2 separate regions of the Homo sapiens genome follow, and region 2 is linked to region 1. The links come from fine-mapping of genetic effects on gene expression. Tissue or cell type: activated CD8 T cells. Region 1 holds a variant in brackets; the other region holds the start of a gene. All regions are shown on one strand. Distances are between the middles of the regions.

Region 1 (2,682 bases):
TGCTGTGAGACTTGGCAGCTACAGGCTCACTGGGCATCCTTCCCTGGAGAACTGCCCGAGGCTGGCAGAACCACCTGGCTCCAAAATGCCTGGAGGCCCAGCTTCCTCCACTCACCCTCAGCTGACCCGATGGGTCCTCCGCTGTGCCCCTTCCTCAAGGCAGGACTTGCTGTGGACAATTCATCCCTCACATCCTTGCTCGGTTCCTTCCACTCTCCTATCCAGCTTTGCTCACTCCCTTCTCCTCAATAACACACAAGCACCAAATCCCTGCCTTAGGATCTGCTTCCAGGAGACCACCTAAGCCAAGTGGTCATTTGGCTTAGTCAACCTCCAAGACTGGCATTTATATGGCTGTAACACGTAGAACTGTACATTTAAAAGGGTGAACTTTATTGCTTTTCAATTATACCTCAATAAACCTGCCCTTAGAAACAAGATGAACTTCATGGAAAAATAGTTACTGCTATTTTGGAGAAAATATCCAAACATGTTAACCAATGAAAAACCTCAGAAAAGCAAAAAGGGAGGCAGGGAAAAGCTATCCTGCATTTAAAATATTCTCCTGGCCCACCGGCTTGCAGCTGCCACAGGTGGAGGACAAGACAAGGGGTGGGTCTTTCCAGGGTGCCCCAGGTGCTGACTGAGCAGCCAGTATGTGATAAAATCTCCTTCTTGAGAGAAAAGGAGGAAGCACAAGACAGGGAAGGGAAGCGCAGCTCCAGGAAAGGGGTGGGCGGAGGGGCTATGGTCTCTGCTGTGCCATTCAAACGCGTGTCGCAGGGACCTCTGAGGGCTGTGCTCTCATCTGCCTGGCTGCCCTGTGCTCACAGGGCCAGCATGTGATTATTTGGGATCTGGTGTGGGTTTTCTCTTGGTTGTTTTATTTTTCACTTACCAGCTGCGTGTTAATAGAAAGTCCCCTGACTGAAGGATTTGCCCGGGATTTCTGTAATAAAAATAGAAGGATTTGTCACAAACGCTGGAAGGACCCTCTGCAAAAGTGGTATTTTTCACGTGATCATGAGCCCCAGAACATATTGTCATCCCGGGCTGCAAGCCTGGCCTCCTCACTGAGTGGCAGTGACAGATGTCCCCTGTTAATGTCCAGTGATTGAATGTCACTGCAGAGGCCC[G/C]TCCTCACCCACACAACCTGTTCCTTTCTTTCTGCAGCCACTGTGTCACGCTTGTCACAAAATCCACATTTTCTGCACATTGTTGGCCTTCTCCAGCAGTGAGCCCTTGTGCCAACCCTGCCCTGCTCCCTCCTCGGCCCATCCCCGAGGACACTGGGGGACAAATAGTACCATCACTGCTAAGTGATAATAAAGGCTGGCAGGAACACATCCTCAGCTTGGGGCGGCTACAAGGAAGGAAAGAAATAAAGAAAAAAGCTCATGAAGTTGCTGGAGTCATAGTCTCCTCCTGGGAATTCAGCCCAAGAATACAATTTATCAGAAATAAAAAGCTCTATTTAGATGGAGATTTATTGAAGCACTTGCTATCATAACAAAACACTGAGAACAACTTGAAAATCCTTTTACAGGTAAATAAATGATGATAAATTCTCTTGATTGGTTACGGCAGGACCCTTAATAATTATGGGGCACTGGTTAAACGTGGCAAATTGAGCAGCAGTTTTTGTTTTCATTGCTTCCCCAAGTACTACCAAAATAAAAGCAAAAGGGAAAAGTATACAAATGCACAGAGACAAAGAAAACGGGAGGGGAGAAAAAGGCAAAGGAAACAGTAGACAAGGAAGGTCAACAAAGATGGAAAGAGCGTGAACAGAAAAGGCCCAAGTTCCTGAGGAGGGGACACCACTAAAATGTGGGTCATCGTGTGCCACAGAAACCCAGAAAGGCTCAGGAATTGGACTCCCCAAGTACCAGGGAAAGCAGGATGAGGCTGGAGCTAAGAGGGAAAGTCTGCAGGGGAAACAAGCAGATGCCTAGAAGACACTGTCAGGGCTCCAGTGGCCCCAGAACCATCCTCCCCCAGCCGTCGGGAAGTGGGAGTGTCTTCTCTGGAGAAATGACTTAGATACATTTCCAAGGTGGAGACATCCAGCAGTGGGGGCAGGACTAAGGCACCAGACAGAAAGGAGTGATTATGACAGAAAAATGTGAGATCACTCAGGCCTAGGTCACTAGCCTGGTGCCTAATGACCTGCAGGAAAACCCACAGGTCAGCAAGTGCCCCCACCACACTCACGTGCACATCCTCACATGCACTCATACAGACTCTCATGCACACATACACTCTCACGCACACACACTCACATGCACACACACTCTCACATGCACACACACACTCTCACATGCACACACAGTCACATGCACACACAGACTCTCACATGCACACACAGACTCTCACATGCACACACACTCACATGCACACACAGTCACATGCACACACAGACTCACATGCGCACACACACTCACATGCACACACACTCTCACATGCACACACACTCTCACATGCATACACACACTCTCACATGCACACACACTCTCACGTGCACACACAGACTCTCATGCACACACACTCTCACATGCACACAGACTCTCATGTGCACACACAGACTCTCACATGCACACACAGTCACATGTGCGCACACACTCTCACATGCACACACTGTCACGTGCACACACAGACACACTCTCACGTGCACAGACTCTC
Region 2 (2,682 bases), 59 kb before region 1:
ACCACCCTTCTGGTCTGCATCCCTCTGATCAACACCGTGTCTGCCAGCCCCTCCCCGCAGGCCCCACACCCAGGCCCACCCTGCATCCGGAGCCCACCTCGCACTTGGCACCCACCCTGCGTGGCCAGCCCTGCCTGCAGTTCAGGGCCTCCCCCTCGGTGCCCAGTCAGCGCCTTAGGTGGGGGCGAGGGTGCTGTGTACGACCCCCAGCCCCAAATCTTAGCAGAGCAGCAGGGCCTCTGCTCAGCAAGTTCCAAACAACTGACCACCAGTCAACTGTTTGGGGCCGACGTCAGACCCCGCGGGTCCAAAGCAGGCCCCAGGTCGCTGGGGTGCAGTTCTCTGAGGCCGAGAACGAGAACGGGGAGGCCGCCGTTACTTCCTTCCCGTCCACAGGCCCCAGGCCCCAGGCCCGCAGCGAAGAAATAACTGGTTCCAGCTGCCACGCCGAGTTTCCTCCTCCCCAGGTCGCCCGCCACAGCTCTGTTTGTTTACGTGGGCAGGGCTTGTCCCCAGGCTGATCCCCGGGCACCGCAGCCCGCAGTGACAACCGCCACCGCTTTGTTTTTCCCTCCACCCCGGTATGGGAACGGGAAAGTCCCGACTCCGGGGCGCTCGGGTGTAGCCCGCGGCTCCCCGCCGGCTCTTGCTCAGCGGCGCTATGCACCCGGTAACGCAACTCTGGAGTCCGCCGAGCGAGGAGCCGCGCCGAGCAAGGCCAGCAGCGGGGCGTCCCAAGCGGCCGCCGGGTCCCCGCGGGCGCCGGCCCGAGCTGGGCACGTGGATCTGGGGCCCGATGGGATGAGGGACGGGGTGACGTGGAGCCACTGCTTAGAGCGGGCGGGGCGGACGGAATACCGGAGGAGGGGCCCCTGCAGGGCTGCGATCCGCGCTGCCCGGGGACGGCTGCCGCTGGCGAGAGGCTCCGAGTCCCCTCGGGACCCAAGAGTTGGGGGCGTCCTGGGTCTCCCGAAGCCCACTCACCAGAGACATTTAACTGGCCTCCCAGGAACCAGCCGATCTTGCCAGTGCTGAAGTCGCAGTCCCAGACGGTGTGGTAGGGGGTGTCCCACACGAGAGTGTCCCGCGCCAGAGGCCCCCAGAAGGCGGCCGGCTCCCGGGCTGCCTGTGCACTCAGCGCGGGATACGAGCCTGGCTGTGCTGCTGCTGCTGCAACTGCGGGAGCGCTGCCCGAGGGTCCCGAGGCCGCCCTGCGCGGCGCGCTCACCCCGCACGGCGGCCGCGCGGGCTGCCCCGAGAGCCCTCGCAGGCTGCCCAGCAGCCTCCCGACGCCGCGGCCCAGGGTGCGCGCCGCCATCTAGGCAGGCTACCTGAGCTCTCTGTGCTCCCAGAGTGGGTGCCTCACGCCCGGGGCGCCCCGTGGAGTCTCCGCGGGCCCCGCCCCTGCTCCGCCCTTCCGCCACCATCCATTCCTCCAGGGCCCCCTCCCGGAGCCCGCCCGGGTCCCACCCCTTCTTCTGCTGCCCGGGAGAGGGGGGGCCGCTTAGGAAGAGGGGAGCAGCGTGGGGAAGGGGTGCAGGGGAGCGCGGGGCGGAGCAGGGTCCCAGGCCCTGGCCCAGGCGCTGCGCTCCGGTGAGTCTGCGGTCCCACCCGGATGTTCCTCGAGTCGGCCTGTTTTGGTTTCAGTTTGCACGCTCTCCTGCAAGCCCCGACAGCTTCTTCGAGCTGCCAGAGGCACGTGCGGCCCAGGACCCCAGGACGCAGGCTCAGGGCCTGGGGCGAGGGGACCCTCTGGGATGGGGAGGAGCCGGGAGGGAGCCGGCACCAACGTTAAGGGGGCTGGTGCACCCAAGCGCACTGGTGGGTCCCAAGACAATAGGTCGGTCAGTTCCGCATCTCAGAGGCTGAAGCCAAGGTTTTCATGCCTTTGTGCGCCCCTGAGAGTGAACCCCACCCCTGGAGTCTCAGCAGCACGCGAAAGGGGCTGGCGCCTTTCTAGGCTCCCGCCTAGAAGCCAGGAGGCTGCGCAAGCCTGAGTCCGTGTTCTGGGTCCCATGCTCCAGCCCCCCAGCTGCCGGCCTCCGTCCTGGCGGGGGTCACGTCCTGCTGGGGGTCGGTGGTGGGTGATATGGGGCGATGAGGACTTTCTCCAGTTGCTGCAGCATCTGTAGCCTGAGTTCAAACTCTGTGACCTTGAGCAAGTTCCTTAACTTCTCGGTGCCTCGTTTTCCTTTTGGGGAAGACGGAAGTAATGTCTCCCTGGGGGGCGGGGACGGCGGGGGTGGGCAGCTGCAGTAAGGAATACATTGGACAATGTCTGTCAAGCGTCTACCCTTGCGTGGCCCCATAGTAAGCTCAGTAGTGGGGATGATGTTTTTGCAGCTGTGGAGCCAGGAAGGACAGAAGGAAACGTATAAAACTGGTCTCCACCGAGTTCTTAAATATTCTGACACCCAAGAAGTAAATTCATAACAAACGGGTAAACACAGGGAAGAGAGATTTTGGAAAACTGGTTTATTGAGTTCTCTGTGATGGGAAAGTTTCTTTCCCTTGAGCTGTAGGGCTTGCAGAGGGGAGGAGCCTGCCATTGGAGGAGCCTCTGCGTGGGCTAGCCACCAGCCCCTGCTGGGGAATGCTGCTGTCTGCCAGAGAAGACAGGAGTGTACCTAGAGCTGGAGAATCAGTGACATCTACTAGCATAACACATGCCCTGCACAGTGC

Direction of the effects. Positions count from the first base shown, and alleles are read on the strand shown. Sizes are in standard deviations (SD) of each study's normalised expression.
As copies of C replace G in region 1, the expression in activated CD8 T cells of the gene that starts at base 1,355 in region 2 goes down (moderate effect, 0.62 SD a copy in Schmiedel 2018).

The links. PIP is the estimated chance that this variant, and not a neighbour inherited with it, causes the effect.
Region 2: it holds the start of ACSS1, and the variant in region 1 is fine-mapped to the expression of ACSS1 in activated CD8 T cells (Schmiedel 2018, PIP 0.95).

The regions. Positions count from the first base shown.
Region 1 is chr20:25,116,154-25,118,835 of GRCh38, forward strand. No RefSeq gene overlaps it. Among named protein-coding and RNA genes, the nearest start is that of VSX1, 35 kb to the left of the region's middle. The variant G/C (reference allele first, on the strand shown) is at 1,137.
Region 2 is chr20:25,056,785-25,059,466 of GRCh38, forward strand. It overlaps ACSS1 (acyl-CoA synthetase short chain family member 1), which reads right to left and starts at 1,355. Exons shown (of 14, transcript NM_032501.4): 1 at 985-1,355. The coding sequence starts at 1,318. RefSeq lists enhancers at 451-580, 1,231-1,836 and silencers at 681-950, 1,081-1,610.